2 separate regions of the Homo sapiens genome follow, and region 1 is linked to region 2. The links come from fine-mapping of genetic effects on gene expression. A gene starts in region 2. The other region holds a variant in brackets. All regions are shown on one strand. Distances are from middle to middle. Region 1 holds the start of LRG1 (leucine rich alpha-2-glycoprotein 1). Region 2 holds the start of PLIN4 (perilipin 4).

The links.
Region 1: its variant is fine-mapped to the expression of PLIN4 in whole blood (TOPMed, PIP above 0.99).

Annotation. Positions count from the first base shown.
Region 1 is chr19:4,535,676-4,543,995 of GRCh38, forward strand. It overlaps LRG1 (leucine rich alpha-2-glycoprotein 1), which reads right to left and starts at 4,361. Exons shown (of 2, transcript NM_052972.3): 1 at 4,307-4,361; 2 at 727-3,276. The coding sequence starts at 4,338. The coding sequence ends at 2,265. It overlaps SEMA6B (semaphorin 6B), which reads right to left. Exons shown (of 17, transcript NM_032108.4): 17 at 6,918-8,320. The coding sequence ends at 7,926. The variant C/A (reference allele first, on the strand shown) is at 3,753.
Region 2 is chr19:4,514,862-4,523,181 of GRCh38, forward strand. It overlaps PLIN4 (perilipin 4), which reads right to left and starts at 3,625. Exons shown (of 8, transcript NM_001367868.2): 1 at 3,524-3,625; 2 at 3,361-3,428; 3 at 2,693-2,837; 4 at 1,756-1,817. The coding sequence starts at 3,411. It overlaps PLIN5 (perilipin 5), which reads right to left. Exons shown (of 8, transcript NM_001013706.3): 8 at 7,670-8,320.

The DNA of each region.
Region 1 (8,320 bases), 21 kb after region 2:
TCAGTCTCCTAAGTAGCTGGGACCACAGGCACACACCACCACCCCCAGCTAACTTTTTAAACTTTTTGTAGAGACGAGATGTCCCTGTGTTGACCAGGCTTGTCTTCAACCCCTGAGCCCCAAGTGATCCTTCCACCTCAGCCTTCCAAATTGCTGGGATTACAGGTGTGAGCCATTGCACCCAGCCTCTTTTTATTTCTTAATCTGCCCCTTAACTAAGCCAGAAGCCAGGCCTTCCCTTTCCCTAGGATCCCCATTTCACAGATGAGCAAGCTGAGGCTCAGAGATCATAAAACACTTGCCCCGCATACCACAGCAAGTGAGGGATCCTATTCCTTTTTTTTCTTTTTTTTTTTTTGAGACAGAGTCTGACTCTGTCGCCCAGGCTGGAGTGCAGTGGCGCGATCTTGACACACTGCAACCTCCGCCCCCTGGGTTCAAGTGATTCTCCTGCCTCGGCCTCCGGAGTAGCTGGGATTACAGGCGCCTGCCACCACACCTAGCTAATTTTTGTATTTTTAGTAGAGACGGGGTGTCACCATATTCGTCAGGCTGGTCTTGGACTCCTGACCTCGTGATTTGCCTGCCTTGGCCTCCCAAAGTACTAGGATTACAGGCATGAGCCACCGTGCCCGGCCAGGGATCCTATTCAAACCCAGCCCTGCTGGACCTCAGAACCCTGCCTTTTCATTGCCTTGCCTGGAATGACCACAGATGTAGGCATGGTCTTTTTATTTTTATTTTTATTTTTGAGACACAGTTTCACTCTGTCGCCCAGCCTGGAGTGCAGTGGCGTGATCTTGGCTCACTGCAACCTCCGCCTCCCAGGTTCAAGTGATTCTCCTGCCTGACCCTCCCAAGTAGCTGGTATTACAGGCACGTGCCACTGTGCCTGGCTAATTTTTGTATTTTTAGTAGAGACAGGGTTTTGCCATGTTGGCCAGTCTGGTCTCGAACTCCTGACCTCCGGTGATCTGCCTGCCTCAGCCTCCCAAAGTGTTTGGATTACAGGCATGAGCCACGGCGCCAGGCTGCATGGTCATTTTTTAGGGAGCTGGGAAAACTGGACATGCCCCCAAGCCCCAGGGTCTTCCAAATCCGATTGCAGCCCCCACATGGCCAATGCTGTATCAGCAGGTGGGCCCGGGACCCTGCTCATCCCTTCAGCCCCATCCTGCCCCTGCAACCTTGCCCGGGGGCAGGTGCCCCCTTCGATGATCTCAGGTCAGCATGACAAATCGTTTGGAGACCTGGGCAATCTGGTTTAACTTAAACCTTCTCCTAGGACACAAGCCCTGGCAGAAATCCACTGGTAAAATGACACCCGGGCAACAGTCAAGGTTTTATTTCCAGTTAGGTCCCAGGATGGGGGAAGGGAGAGGAGAAGTCACAGGCCATTGATCCCAACTGTCATCCCCTAGGGAGACCATATCCCACACCCCAGGGCCTGGGCCATGCCTCTTTTCCTCCTTCACCCTGGAGTCCTGGGAAGTTGATTTGAGAAGATGCTAGGAACACAATGAAAGCCAATTCATCCGATCCAGTTTTCAAGGGTTATTTATTAAACCCCTTGGTTCTGACCCCAAGCTAAGTGGGACTCAGCATCAGACCCTGCACTCAGAGAGCCCCCTGACTTGGGGAAGACAGAGTCAGAGAAAGGCAGCCCCAGTGTGGCCAGGGCTCAGCTGGAAGGAAGGACAAGGGGCTGGGAGAACCCAGAGTTCAAGAGATCTGGGAAACAGGGAACGGCATTCCAGACGGAGGGCACACCTTGGGCATGGGTAAGGAAAGCCCATCGTGTGTTCTAGGAAGCATGGATGGATGAAACGGGGTCCCAGCCGCTATGGACAGCCCCGAGTTTCACCTGTAAAAGGCAGGATTATTTGTTTTTAATTTTAATTTTAATTTTTTTGAGACAGTCTTGCTCTGTCGCCCAGGCTAGAGTGCAGTGGCACGATCTTGGCTCACCGCAAGCTCCGCCTCCCAAGTTCACGCCATTCTCCTGCCTCAGCCTCCCGAGTTGCTGGGACTACAGGTGCCCACCACCACGCCTGGCTAATTTTTTATATTTTTAGTAGAGACAGGGTTTCACCATGTTAGCCAAGATGGTCTCGATCTCCTGACCTCGTGATCCGCCCACCTGGGCCTCCCAAAGTGCTGGGATTACAGGCGTGAGCCCCCGCACCCGGCCAAAGGCAGGATTATTTGTTAAGCGGGTTGCAGTGTTCTACCAGACCCCCCACCCTCAACCCAAGCCCCTGGTCTCACTGGGACTTGGCCACTGCCAGGAGCGTCTGGCCCTTCACGGCTTCAGGCCCAGCACAGCGCGTGTCATTCTGGGAAAACATCTTGTCTTTTTGGGCCTGAAGCCAACGATAGAGGTCGCTCAGGTTCTGGTCACAGATCCAGGGGTTGCCGGAGATGTCGAAGCCATCCCGCATGTCCCAGTTTGGCTGCCCTAGGGATGCCCAGAGCCCCTCGGGCACGCTGGCCAGTGAGTTATTGGAGAGGTCCAGCATGTCCAGCTGCCGCAGGCCCTGGAAGGCACCGGCTGCCACCCTGGCCAGCTTGTTGCCGTTCAGGAAGAGGTAGCGCAGGTCCGGCTGCGGCAAGAGGAGATCTTTTCCCAGTACTTGCAATTTGTTGCCTTCTAGATGTAGCCGTTCTAATTGCAGCGGACCCCTCAGGAGGTCAGGTGGCAAGGTCTCCAACTGGTTCTCCCCAAGGTCAAGGGTGCGCAGGAGGGTGAAGTTGGCCAGCAGCCCGGGGGGCAGTTTCCGGAGGCGGTTCCCAGACAGGTCCAGATGCCCCAGAGCTTTCAGGCCGTGTAGCCACGAGACCTCCAGGACCTCCAGCTGGTTTTCTTTCAATACCAGGGTGTCCAGGGTGGCTGAGGCCTGGAAGAGGCCCGGGGGCAGCCCGGTCAGGGCGTTTCGGGTTAGATCCAGCACCCTCAGCTGCGGCACTGGCCGCAGGAATTCGGGCGAGAGGCTTTCCAGCCCATTGCTGGAGAGGTGCAATTCTTGGAGCTTAGAGGCGCCCTGGAGGAGGTTGGCTGGCAGGTGGGTCAGGTTGAAGAATTCCACGGCCAGGTGCACGGTGTCGGCTGGCAGGTAGCCGGGGATTTCGGCAGGTGGTTGACAGGAGATGGAGCTGCCATGGTCTGAGCGGAACACCTGGCAGTCTTTGGGGCTCAGGGTGACCCCCCAGGCTGAGGCTGCCAACAGCAGCAGCAGGAACAGAGTTCTAGAAACATGGGGTTGAATGCCCCCTGGGCTGCAGGCAGTAACAGAAGATGCTTACTAAACCACAGTGAAAATACACTCAGCTAGGTGAAAATACACCAGCAAATCCGCCCACTTCTTCCCATCTCTGCGGCTACCAGCCTGGACTATGCTACCTCATCTCTCACCTGTACTAGGGCAGTTGCTTCCTCCTCCTCTTCCAGCTTCTACCCTCACCCCCGACAGCTGCCAGAAGTGGCCCCTGTTCCAGGGAGAATTATAATTCTAGGAAAGTTGAGTTTCTGAGTGTAACTCCCGCATAATATGAATACACTTCCCCATCACCAGCCTAGCCCCCATGAGCTGTTAATTATTCACAGTCCAACTTGCTAGTTTCTTCTGATCTGGCTTATTTTCTGGGTCAGTCCTTGTCTCCCTGGCTCTGTGTTTTGATGTGAACTCCTATTCATCCTTCAAAGCCCCAGCTCCAATGCCCTCTTTTCCATGAAGACTTCTCTGCTCTGGGAT[C/A]CTGGTCTTTTTGTCCACTCTTGACCAATTGGGTGCTTGGAGGAAGACAGACGTTCAGGTTCATGTTTTTGAGACAGAGTCTTGCTCAGTTGCCCAGGCTGGAGGGAACTGGCATGATCACAGCTCACTGCAGCCTCTGAACATGAAAAGTGTGTCCTGCTTTGGCCAGGTCTGAGGGTGGGCATTTGGCCTTGGGAAGCGGTGGTTTACACTTAGCACCACAACCCTTGGAAGCCTGGGGCTTCCCCTCCTCCTCCAGGGCTTCCCTGGCCCGGCAGCCATCAGACATGATCTCGACAGCCTTGGTCACTGTGGCCCCAGGCCTCTAACAAGAAGCCTCCCCCGGCTCCCTGCTGCCCATGCCCACCTGGGCTTCTGTAGGGGTGTGTGTGTGTGTGCACGCGCCAGTCTTTCTGTCACAGATAAGGTTGATCTGTGCCAGCCACCAGGCCTGTATCTGCTCCCTGTGACTTCTATGGGTTAGCTGGAATGTCCTGTATCTCCGCATGGTCTGGCGTTCAAACCTGCCTAGGACAGGTAGTGTGGGGACCTACCTTTTTGGTCGCTGTCTGCTCCAAGAGGACATGGTAGCTCTGCTCTTTTGCTTCTGGGTTGTCCTGGCCTGCGGAGGTGGCCTTATACCTGCCTGGACTGGGGGCAGGGGAACCAACCCTGGGGAAGTCCCCACCCCCGTCCAGTTCCTGATAGGGGCTGAGCCTAAGCCAGGCAGGGGAAGGGGAGGGGTCAGGATTACAAAATTGCTTCCTGGAAATTGTTTCCTGTTCAACCCCTTTTTGACCCTGCTTCTAGAACACAGGTTTTTCTTTCCTTGCTTCCTGATTTTTGGGGGGCATCCAAGAGTCTCTCTAGTTGCATCCTCACTTCCCCCAACCCGGAGTTCAAGGGTCAAGGTTTGCAAGGCACTATTCCTGGAGACAGGGACAGCTCTCTGAGCAAGAGGAGGGATTTACCATAAACTTGAGCAACCCAGAAGCTCACTGAAAAGAACAAAAAAACTCGTCTTGATTTCATGGTATGTTGATATTGCTTTTTTTAAAAGAAGTCATTTTAAAAATACAGTCCAATAGTGAGTAATGCCAAACGTCTCTACGGTCCTTAGACAGTGGCTTGGGAGGAACCAAACCTGGTTCTGAATTCCAGCTCTGTCATGAACACCTTTGCTTTGTGACCTTTGGCAAGTGACTTAACTTTTCTTGGCCTCAGTTTCCCCATCTATGAAGCTGAACTCAAATCTCCAAGGGCTCCTTCTGCCCTTTTTTCTCTTCATCTGAATCTGACATCCATGCTATTGTTTCCATTCTTCCTCATTTCCTATTAAATGCGTTTGGAGGCTACAAATTTCCCTTTGAGAACAGCTTTGGCTGCATCTCATGGACTTGGCTGCAGAGTGCTTGCATTCTTGTTGAGTTCTAAATATTTAGGTATGATGGTGTCACCTTTATCTGCAGCTATGACTATTTTTTTTTTCTTTTTTTTTTTGAGACAGAGTCTTGCACTGTTGCCTAGGCTGGAGTGCAGTGGCGTGATCTCCACTCACTGCAAGCTCCGCCTCCCGGGTTCACGCCATTCTCCCACCTCAGCCTCCCGAGTAGCTGGGACTACAGGCATGCACCAGCGTGCCTGGTTAATTTTTATATTTTTAATAGAGACAGGATTTTGCCATGTGGCCCAGGCTGGTCTTGAACTCCTGAGCTCATGTGATCCACTGGCCTCGGCCTCCTAAACTGCTAAAATTACAGGTGTGAGCCACCATGCCCCGTCATTTTTTTTTTTTTTTGAGACAGCATTTTGCTCTGTTACCCAGCTTGGAGCAGTGTGGTGCAATCATAGCTAACTGTAGCTTTGACCATGGGTCCAAGGCCTCCCAAGTAGCTGGGACTACGGGCACGTGCCACCATGCCTGGCTAATTTTTTTTGAGATGGAGTCTCCCTCTGCCACCCATGCTGGAGTGCAGTGATGCAATTTCGGCTCACTGCAAGCTCCACCTCCTGGGTTCAAACGATTCTCCTGCCTCAGCCTCCCGAGTAGCTGGGAATACAGGCACATGCTACCATGCCTGGCTAATTTAAAAAATTCTTTTGTATGTTACCTAGGCTGGTCTCAAACTCCTGGGCTCAAGGAATCTTCTCAGTCTCTCAAAGTGCTGGGGTTATAGACGTGAGCCACTGCACTCCGTCAGTCTTGTGCCCTGCCCAGTCTCCGGAGCCCAGCCGTTAGTTGGTCTTAATCAACATGGACTGAGAGGAAGGAAGGCTTGTGAAATGTAGTGACACAGTAACAAAACGATCCATTAAAATGAAATGAGATCACATCCCTGCTTAAAACTCTCTGATGGCTTCTTGTCCCACTTAAAACAAAATTCATAAGGCTGGCCAGGCGCAGTGGCTCACGCCTGTAATCCCAGCATTTTGGGAGGCCGAGGCAAGCGGATCACCTGAGTTCAGGAGTTCGAGACCAGCCTGACCAATATGATGAAACCCCGTCTGTACTAAAAATACAAAAATTAGCGGGGCGTGGTGGCGGGTGCCTGTAGTCCCAGCTACTGGAGAGGCTGAGACAGGAGAATTGCTTGCACCCAGGAGGCATAGGTTGCAGTGAGCCGAGATCGCGCCACTATACTCCAGCCTGGGTGACAAAGTGAGACTCTGTCTCAAAAAAAGAAAAAGAAAAAGAAAAAGAAACTGGCTCCTATGCAGATGAAGATGGGGACCCCGAAGTCTCCATGTTTCCACACTCAGCTCCCCAGATTTGTTTTGACCCAGCCTTTTTTTTTTTTTTTTTTTTGAGACAGCGTCTCGCTCTGTCACCCAGGCTGTAGTGCAGTGGTGTGATCTCAGCTCACTGCAACCTCTGACTCTCAGATTCAAGCTATTCTTCTGCCTCAGTCGGCCGAGTAGCTGGAATTACAGGAACCCGCCACCAAGCCTGGCTGATTTTTTGTATTTTTAGTAGAGACGGGGTTTTGCCATGTTGGCCAGGCTAGTCTCGAACTCTTGACCTCAAGTGATCTGCACACCTCGGCCTCCCAAAGTGCCGGGATTACAGGCGTGAGCCACCGCGCCCGGCCTGGCCTTGACTTTTGAGGGTGCCCCCACCCGTGCCACCCCCAGGAGGCAGAGCAGAGCCAGAGTCATGGGGGCCGGTGGTTGTAAACAGAGTTTTATTGATGGGGAGGGGGCTGGGGGAGGCAAACTCCAGAGAGGGCAGAGGACCCAGCCAGCCACGTGGCATGCATGGTCAGCTGGAGGTCAGAGGGGGGAGGTCACAAGGGGACGGGTGGCATGGGACTCTCTCACCACCCTGGGGCCGTATTTACAGAGGGGCCCCACCCACCTTCGCCGCCCCCCAGGCCCCCAAGCCCTTTAGACAGCTGCTGCCGATGTGACTTCCGGGCAGGCCCTCCTCGTGTCTCCTGCCTGAAACCCCGGCATTGTCCCCGCTTCCCTCTGCAGAGTGGGGGGGGTTCAAACTCCTAACCGGCACCTCGGAGACCCCCGGGCCTTCTGGAAGCCCCAGCGTCGGCTCAGCCAACGCCCAGGCCGCTGGGGCCACCACGATCGTCGCTCGTGGACACACACCCTGCACGCGTGGCCCACTTGACACACACGCCCACAGCAGCCTTCGCTGGCACGCACACACACGCCCACCTCCCCGGCCCCTTGCACACGAACACGGCACGCACACGCACGCACACCCACACACGCCAGGGGCCTGGGTTGGGGAGGGACCTTTCCAGGGGTGGGGGAGGGCTTAGGTCTGCAGCTGTGGCCCCCCATTCCCCACCGGCGTCCAAGCCTCCCCTGCCTGCCGCCACCCCGAGAACGGAGTTGTGCAATTGGTTAGAAAACCGCAAAAGAAACCAAAACTGCAAAAAAAACCAAAACCTACGCGCATAAGGTCAACCTCAAATCCATAGCAAAGTCCTCCCGCCCACCCACCCCCAAACCGTCTCAGCGTCCTGCGGCCCCGGGTAGGGGGAGGGCGAGCTGGTTGTGCTTCCTTGTGGCGGAGGGGGCCCCCCACTCCGCGGGTGGGTCGCGGGGGGGACTTGAGCACCCACTCGGAGTTGCCCCGGGCCCCGGCGTTCTGGCACCGTCTCTCGCTCCTGGTTCCCGTGGCTGGCACTGCCAAGGCATCGGGGGGCCCCCGGCCTAGGGCACGGGGGGCGCAGTCCTGTCCGCCCCCCCATAGGGGAGGAGGTGGGCCAAGTCTGTGCCCGGCCGGGCGTGGCAGCCGCGGTGGCGGTCCCCAGGCCGGGCCTCGCCGCTGTTGAACGTGTGGGTGCGGCGCAGGGTGGCGGCCGGAGGGGCGTGGGGGCCCAGTGGCCTCCTCAGGCTGCCCGTCGGGGGCGGGCTCCAGGGCCGCGGGAGGCCATCGGCGGCTGAGGCTGGGTCCAAGGGGCCCGTGGGCGCGGACACCACCCGCCGGCGGTCCGGGCTGGCGTGGGGGGTGAGCGGGAAGTCGCCGTGGGAGGCGCGGCCGGGCCGGGCAGCATAGAGGCGGCCGTCGGGGGTCGGCTCCCCAGGCGCGGGGGGCTGCTCGGGGG
Region 2 (8,320 bases):
ACGGTGAGACCCCATCTTTAAAAAAAAAAACAGGCCGGGCACGGTGGCTCACGCCTGTAATCCCAGCACTTTGGGAGGCCGAGGCAGGTGGATCACCTGAGGTCAAGAGTTCGAGACCAGCCTGACCAACATGGCGAAACCCTGTCTCTACTAAAAATACAAAAATTAGCCAGGCATGGTGGCAGGCACCTGTAATCCCAGCTACTCTGGAGGCTGAGGCAGGAGAATCGCTTGAACCCAGGAGGCAGAGATTGCAGTGAGCCGAGATCGTGCCATTGCCCTCCAGCCTGGGTGACAGAGCGAGACTGTCTCAAAAGATAAAAAAAAATTAAAAAACACAAAAATGAATGAAGATGATGATGGCCTAGGAGTTCTAACTCTCGGGTGTACCTGTGAGGTGCTACTTTTTTTGTTTGTTTGTTTTTTGAAACAGAGTCTCACTCTGTCACCCAGACTGGAGTGCAGTGGCGAGATCTCGGCTCACTGCAGTCTCCGCCTCCTGGGTTCAGTAATTTTTCTGCCTCAGCCTCCTGAGTAGCTGGTATTACAGGCGTGCACCACCATGCCCAGCTAATTTTTGTATTTTTAGTAGAGATGAGGTTTCACCATGTTGGCCAGGCTGGTCTCAAACTCCTGAGCTCAACTGATCTGCCTGCCTCAGCCTCCCAAAGTGTTGGGATTACAGGTGTGAACCACCGTGCCCGGCCAAGGTGCTATTTTAATTCAGTAGTTTTCAACTGGGTGATTCTGCCCCCAGGGGGCACTGGGTGATGTCTGGAGACATCTGTAGTTGTCACAACTTGGGGAGGCTCCTGGCATGGAGTAGGTGGAGACCAGGGATGCTGCTCGGCACCCTGCAGTGCCCAGGATGGCCCCACCCCAGAGAATGATCCAACCCCAAATATCCACAGTACTGAGGTTGAGAAGCCCGGAAATTGTATTCTCAGAACACATCTCCCAGCTTTGGCTCAGGTGGGCACCTTGGGCCCTGTAGTTGGAGAGACCCAGGTTCAAGTCCCAGCTTTTTACCCTCTCCTGCTCCCGACACTCGCTGTGTGGCCTTAGGCAAGCCACATGCCCTCTCTGAGCTAATATCCTCATCTGGAAAATGCTGATTAAAACAGATCCTCTTGCCAGGCGCAGTGGCTAATGCCTGTAATCCCAGCACTTTGGGAGGCTGAGGTGGGTGGATCACTTGAGGTCAGGAGTTGGAGACCAGCCTGGTGAAACCAACATGGTGAAACCCCGTATCTACTAAAAATACAAAAATTAGCTGGGCATGGCGGTGAGCACTTGTAGTCCCAGCTACTCAGGAGGTTGAGGCAGGAGAATCGCTTGAACCTGGGAGGCAGAGGTTGCAGTGAACTGAGATTGTGCCACTGCACTCCAGCCTGGGTGAAACAGCAAAACTGCATCTCAAAAAATAAAAGTAGAAGAAATAAAGTGCTTACGCTGCTGTCGCTTTGGTCTCATCTTGCCAGGCACAGCCCTGTGTAGACTGGAACCTTACGTGATTAGAGTGGGGTAGCACTGCACCCATTTCACAGATGTGGAAATAGAGGCTCAGAGGGGAAGCTCCGCCTGGGATCCCCAGGCTGTCTGCCTTCCCTCAGGCCCACAGCAGCCCCCCAGATAGCAGGAACTGAAATGTCCCAGGAGGGAGCAGCCCCCCAGATAGCAGGAACTGAAATGTCGCAGGAGGGGGCACCCCCAGGGCTCCTGCCACATCAGACCCTGCCCTGCACATCCTCTCACCTTTTCCGAAGGTTGCAGCTCCTTCTCCGTCCATGGGGCCGTCTGCTCTGGGTGGGCAGCCACTGTGGGGACAGGGGCCGGTCAGGGAGAGTGAGGGATGCAGTTAGAACCATCTACCCGGCTGCCCATTGCACAATAGCCAGGCACAGCCTAAAAGGTCAGGAATGTTTCAGCTACCCCGCCAGGGACAGCAGGAGGTGACATCCACGGCTACCAGCCAGACCTGGTCACCCCCCAACCCCGCTGGGGGCTCCCCCCAAGCCCAGGGCCGCTGTTCCCTGAAGTAGGGCTCTGTGGAACTTCCTCTGCTGGGTGGACACCCACCCTGAGTCCCGGGGTTCATATAGCCTGGCATGGGGGAACAGCCCCTTGCCCAGCCCGCCCCGCCCCCACCGCAGCTGCCTGCTGCCTATTGCCAGGCCAAGGCATGTGGAGCAGAAGTCAGCTGCCTGGGGCTCTGGGCCCAGAGGGAGGCCCAGCTCAGGCGGCTGCCCCAACCCTGGGTTCCCTGTCACCGTCCCTGATCGCCCAAGCTGAGCCACAGGAGGCTGGGGAGCCCCTGGGCTGTGTGACCCCAGGGGAGCTGTTGCTCCTCCCTGGGAGTCTGGATCTCACTCTGATGAGCTCAGATGGGCAGAGCACCCAGCCTGGGCCATGGTGCATCAGAAACGGAGTGCAGGGTGGGGGAACGGCCGAGGGACTGAGTGGGGGGGCATTGCAGGGAGACAGGCTGGGTTGAAAGCCACCTTCGGCCACTCACCCCCCATATTTATGCCTCAGTTTCCCCATCCACCACAAGATGTCCTAGTGTCTGATGAGAGCACACAGACAAATATGGAGGACTCCCCAAATGGCTGGAAGTCCCTGCCCGGGGAGCTCCTTCTCCCAGGTCCATGTGTAGAGTCCCCCCACGCCCCCAGCTGGGCCAGCCACTCACCCTGAGCCTGTGGTTGGGCAGCCTCGGCAGCAGGCGCTCCTGTGGGGTCAGCGGCCGGCCGGGCTCTCGCCGAGCTATGTGCGTTGGCCACCAGGTTCCGGGCAGAGCTGAAGCCAGGCAGGGACCCAAAGAAGCTGCCCAGGGTCTGCATGGGGGCGGGGGGTGTGCAGGATGAGCAGGCCAAGCCTCGGCAGGAACGGGTCAGAGGAAGCATCGATTGATCAGCCCAATGCCGCCCCGGCCCCTTGCTCCTGGGTGACCTCAGGAAAGTGTTTCAGCCACTCAGCCTCAATTTCCACACCTGGGCAATGGGCAGACTCAGCCTGCCTCCCATGCACAGAGGAAAAGATCGTCTACCCGATCTCCAAAGACCTTTTCCTTCCAGGATCCCCACTGCACAGATGGGGAAACTGAGGCTCAGAGAGGGGCGGAGCTGAGGCCGGCCCAAGGTCACTTGCTGGGGAAGGTGTCGAGGTCTGCGTGGGTCCCCCGCCTCCAGCTTGGGTCAGAAAGGAAGGGATTGGCATCATGGCTCCCAGACCGCCCCCACCAGCCCACCAGGGAAGCACCTCTCCAGATTCGAGACCCCAGGACTGTGGAGGTCACCTTCCCCGGCTCTGGGGCATCTCCAGGCCCCAGCAAGAATCTGCCCCATTTCCCCTCTTTACCTTGCCCTTCGGTTTGGGGGGATCCCGTCTCCCTTCGTCTGGAGCAGACATAGTGAGAACGTGAGAAGCTGGAAGGGGGCAGAGAAGGTGCGTGAATGGGGGTTCCCTAGCCTCCCATCCCACACCCACTCCCCACTGAAAGCCTGAGCAGCCCGACACCCACCTGCAGGCCTGGCCTCACCCTGGTGTCACCGAAGCAGACGCGGCCCCGCTCACCTGGACTGCGCGGGGTCCCCTGGAGGACGGACCGGCCCGGCTGGCAGCTGGCTCTACCCTCAGCTCCCTGGCCTTATAGGGTCCGGGGCAGGCGCAGGCCCAGCCAGCAGCGGCAGGCGGCCAATGGGCCCGGGGGAGGTGGCCTGGACGGTCACATGGCTACCTGCCCAGCCCAGCATGGGCCCAGGCCCAGCACCTTTCCCCTGTTTCCTGCCCACAGCTTGCATCAGGCTGAGTGGCTCACAGGCCAGATGGGCTCCCCTCCCGGGCCCCTGAGCCTCCAGTTCCATCCACGAGGTGGGTGTAGTTCAAATCTCTGCTGCACCAGGATGCCTTGGCCAGTTACCATCTTTTTGCTTCAGGTTTCTCTCTCGTACTCCGCACCACGTCCCGTAACATCCAGCTTCTTCTCTGCTCTCATCTCCCCCAGCTTCCTCCTTCGCTTGCTTCATCCCAGCCACACAGGCCTCCTCGCTATGCCTCCAGCGCACCTGGCACGGTCCTGCCTTAGGGCCTCTGCACGGGCTGTGCCCTCTGCCTGGAACACCTTCCCTGCAGGTTCCCACAGGGCACCCTCTTCCGCCCACAGAACAGTGCCTGGCATACATTTGGCGCTTAATACACGTTTGGCTCAATGGAGCAACACAGAGAGTGGTTGTGAGCCTCTGTGAGATGAGGTCATGCACTGAACAAATGCTGCCTTCGCGTTACCCAGGCAGAAGCGGGGTCTCGGGGTCTCGGCAAGGAGCAGGGGGTGTCCTCAGTGTGGAGGGGAGCCCATCACTCTCCGGAAGGGACTTGGGCCAAAACGCAGACCAAGATGGAGCACCAGCCAAGCTGGGGGCACCCTAGGAGTGGAAACCCAGCCTGGGGGGCTTGGGCCAACCCAGGGAGGCTCCCTGGAGGAGGCGTCCTGTTCCAGAAGTGGTGAGGATGGGATTCAAACCCAGACCCTCCTGTTCCAGGAAGTGGTGAGGACGGGATTCAAACCCAGACCCAGGACCTTCGTGCTGAGCCCAGCCTATGTGCTGGGCTGTCTGTGGGTGGGTGGGCAGAGGAATGGCCGTAACGCCCACCCTGGGCTGTGTCCCCCTCCTACCTGCCCCTGAGACAGGGTTCCTAGCCCTGTGTTATTGGGGGTGAGAGGGCAGACCCCATGGGTGGCTCTGGGCACTGGGCTGGGAGGAGGGAGGGTACAGCCACAGGATCTGATGATTCCCAGGCCGTCTGTCTCCTTGGAGCCGACACTGTGTTTGCCAAACAGTGGGGGAACAGAAGGGGGGGTGTCCCCCAACCTCTTCTACCAGCCAGTGCTTCCCAAGGGTGGCTGGGAGAGCTCTGGGTGCCCCTCCCCTTCCCAAAGGGCAGCCACAGCCCAGTGTGTGGAGAGAAAAAATTAAAAAGTGATCATAAACATCCCAGCCAGGATCTACCCCTCCTCTGCCCAGCACCCTCCATGGCTCCCACCTTCTCCGGGGTGGGAGCCCAGGGTCAAAGCCCAAGTCCCCTTCCTGCAGCCCGGTAGGCCCTGCATAACCTGCCTCGTCTGCTCCCCACCTTCCTCTCCTTCTTCTCTTCACTCTGCTCCAGCCACACGGGCCTTTTCACTGTTCCCATAACATGCCAGGACAGAGTCCCTCAAAGACACACGTGACTGTGCCTGCTTAGCCCCGCACACCCTTCCTCAGGGCTTTCGTGTGGGTTGTTGCTTTTGCCTCCAGCACCCTTTCCCACATCCCTCACCTCCTTCCAGGTCTTTCCTCAAATATCACTTCCTCAAAGAGGCATTCCTGGATCTCCTCTCCCTTTAAAAAATATATACCTCAGGCCAGGTGCCATGGCTCACCCTGTAACCCCAGCATTTAGGGAGACCGAGGCAGGAGGATTGGCTTGAGCACAGGAGTTTGAGACCAGCCTGGGCGACAGAGCGCCACCCCGCCTCAAAAGAACAAAAGAAAAAAAAAAAAAAATAAATAAAAAAAATATATTTTATATATATATATTTCTGTTGAGGCGGGGTCGCGCTCTGTCGCCCAGGCTGGAGTACAGTGGTGCGATCTCGGCTCACTGCAAGCTCTGCCTCCCGGGTTCATGCCATTCTCCTGCCTCAGCCTCCCGAGTAGCTGGGACTACAGGCACTCGCCACCACACCCAGCTAATTTTTTGTATTTTTAGTAGAGACAGGGTTTCACTGTGCTAGGCAGGATGGTCTCGATCTCCTGACCTCGTGATCCACCTGCCTCGGCCTCCCAAAGCGCTGGGGTTACAGGCATGAGCCACTGTGCCCGGCTGCCCAAAATATATCTTTAAATAAAAATTAAATGAATTAATGGGCCAGGCGCGGTGACTCATGCCTGTAATCCCAGCATCTTGGGAGGCCGAGGCAGGTGGATCACCTGAGGTCAGGGTTCGAGACCAGCCTGGCCAACATGGCAAAACCCTATCTCTACTAAAAATACAAAAATCAGCTGTGTGTGGTGGCGCACGCCTGTAATCCCAGCTACTCGGGAGGCTGAGGCAGGAGAATCACTTGAACCTGGGAGGTGGAGGTTGCAGTGAGCCAAGATCGCGCCACTGCACTCCAGCCTGGGTGACAGAGTGAGACTCCTTCCCCACCCCCCCAAAGAAAAGAAAAGAAAAGAAAAATCCCAGGGCTTAGCTCAACCCATTCTCTTTTCCTCACCTCTGCTGCAGTGAAACTGATTTCCCTACTGCTGTGCCTTTCCCTAAGCTGTTCCCTCTGCCAAAATGCCTACCCCTATGTGCTGTTCTGATCATCCTCAACAGGCCTGGCCCTGCCAGGAGCCCCCAGCCTCATGTGGGAAGAGAGAGCAAGGCTGCCTGTGGCTATAAAGTCAAGGTGGAAAGGGCAAGAAACCTTGAGAAGGTGGCCTGTGGAGGACCGGAGGAGGGAAGTATCCGGCTGGGATGGAGTCCTGGAAGCCTTCCTGGAGGAGGAGGCATTGAGGCTGGGCCTTGAGGATGTATGAGATGTGTCCGAGGGACGGATGGGGGGTGGGAAGAGTATTCCAAGGTGGCCGCACAGCCTCAGCAAAGGCCCGGAGGTGGGAATGTGCCCACTTCAATGGTAAGAGAGCAAAGTATCCAGGTCAGGCTGGAGGAGGAAGCTGGAAGGTGAAGAGTTTGGTCTGTGGGCAGTGGGGACCTGTGGGAGATTCCAGAACAGGAGCAGGGAGGTAGATTTGGCTGGTGGAAGTGGTCGGAGATCCCAGAGCTGCCCTCTGGACTATGTCCCAGGGAAGTCAGGGGCCACCCTGACCTCACCATACCAAGCTGTGGTTTCCCAACACCCCGCCCAGCCCCAGGGGAGTCGGAAGAGCAGCCAGGAATGCGGTCAGAGGACAGGAGGAAACCCCCGAGACCAGCCTATGGCCCTTGCCCTGCCTCTGTCTTCCCATCCTGGCCAGTGCAGCTGGAGAGACCACAGCAAGACCAGCTCCTGCAGGACCAGGAGGTAGAGAGAGAGCTGCCCCATCTGACTCCTTCCCCATCTTTTCTGCTCCCTGCAATTCCATGAAATTCACCTGTACCAAGATGAGAACAGCTTCCATGCGGCCAAAGGGGCAATGCTGTTGTTTATTTTTAGAGACAGGGTCTCACTCTGTTGCCCAGGCTGGAGTGGAGTGGTTACTGATCCAAGCTCACTGCAACCTCAACTTCCTAGGCTCAAGCGATCCTGCTGCCTCAGCCTCCCGAGTAGCTGGGGCACAGGCTCGTACCATGTGTCATTTTAAAATTTTTCGTAGAGACAAGGTCTCCTATGTTGCCCAGGCTGGTGTCAAAACTCCCGGGCTCATGAAATCCTCCCACCTCAGCCTCCCAAAGTGCTGGGATTACCGATATGAGCCATGGTGCCCGGCTAATTTTAAGTGGTAATGCTTACCCCACATGGGCTGGGCAGTAACGGTGGATCCCAGACAGGATGACAGGCAGGTCAGAGAAGCACCATTCTTCTAGATCTTGAACTCTGGCTCTACACACCCCCTTCTCCATGTCTCAGCAGTGACACACCTCCGTGGCCCCCAGCCCCCTGGGACTGAGACTCACCCTGGCTGGAACACACACGTGGGCCTTTCAACAACAAAAAGGACCTTTATTCTGGAGGCAAATCCCAAACAGCAAAGCAAGCGAGTATGGCAGGCTGAGCAGCACGGCCCATGGGCAGAGGAGGGCTCACTTTTCAAAGTTCCAAATAGGGCAAAATGTGTGTTTCCCTAGGAAGTATTTTTTAAAAACATTTTTGAGATAGAGTCTTGCTCTGTCACCCAGGCGAGAGCGCAGGGGCAAGATCATGGCTCACTGCAGCCTCCAACTCCTGGGCTCAAGCAGTCCTCCCACCTTGGCCTCCCAAAGTGCTGTGATAACAGGTGTCAACCACCACACCCAGTCAGGGCTCACTTTTCAAAGCCCCAAACAGAAGGCATTGGGCAAAATGTGTATTTCTTCGGGAGGCTGTTACTATTATTTTTTGTTAGATGGAGTCTCGCTCTGTCACCCAGGCTGGTGTGCAGTGGCGCGATCTCTGCTCACTGCAAGCTCCGCGCCTCTCGGGTTTAAGCAATTCTTCTGCGTCAGCCTCACAACTAGCTGGGACTACAGGTGCACACCACCACACCTGGCTTTTTTTTTTTTTTTCTTTCTTTCTAAGTAGAGACAGGGTTTCATCATGTTGGCCAGGATGATCCCGAACTCCTGACTTCAGATGATCCACCTGCCTCAGACT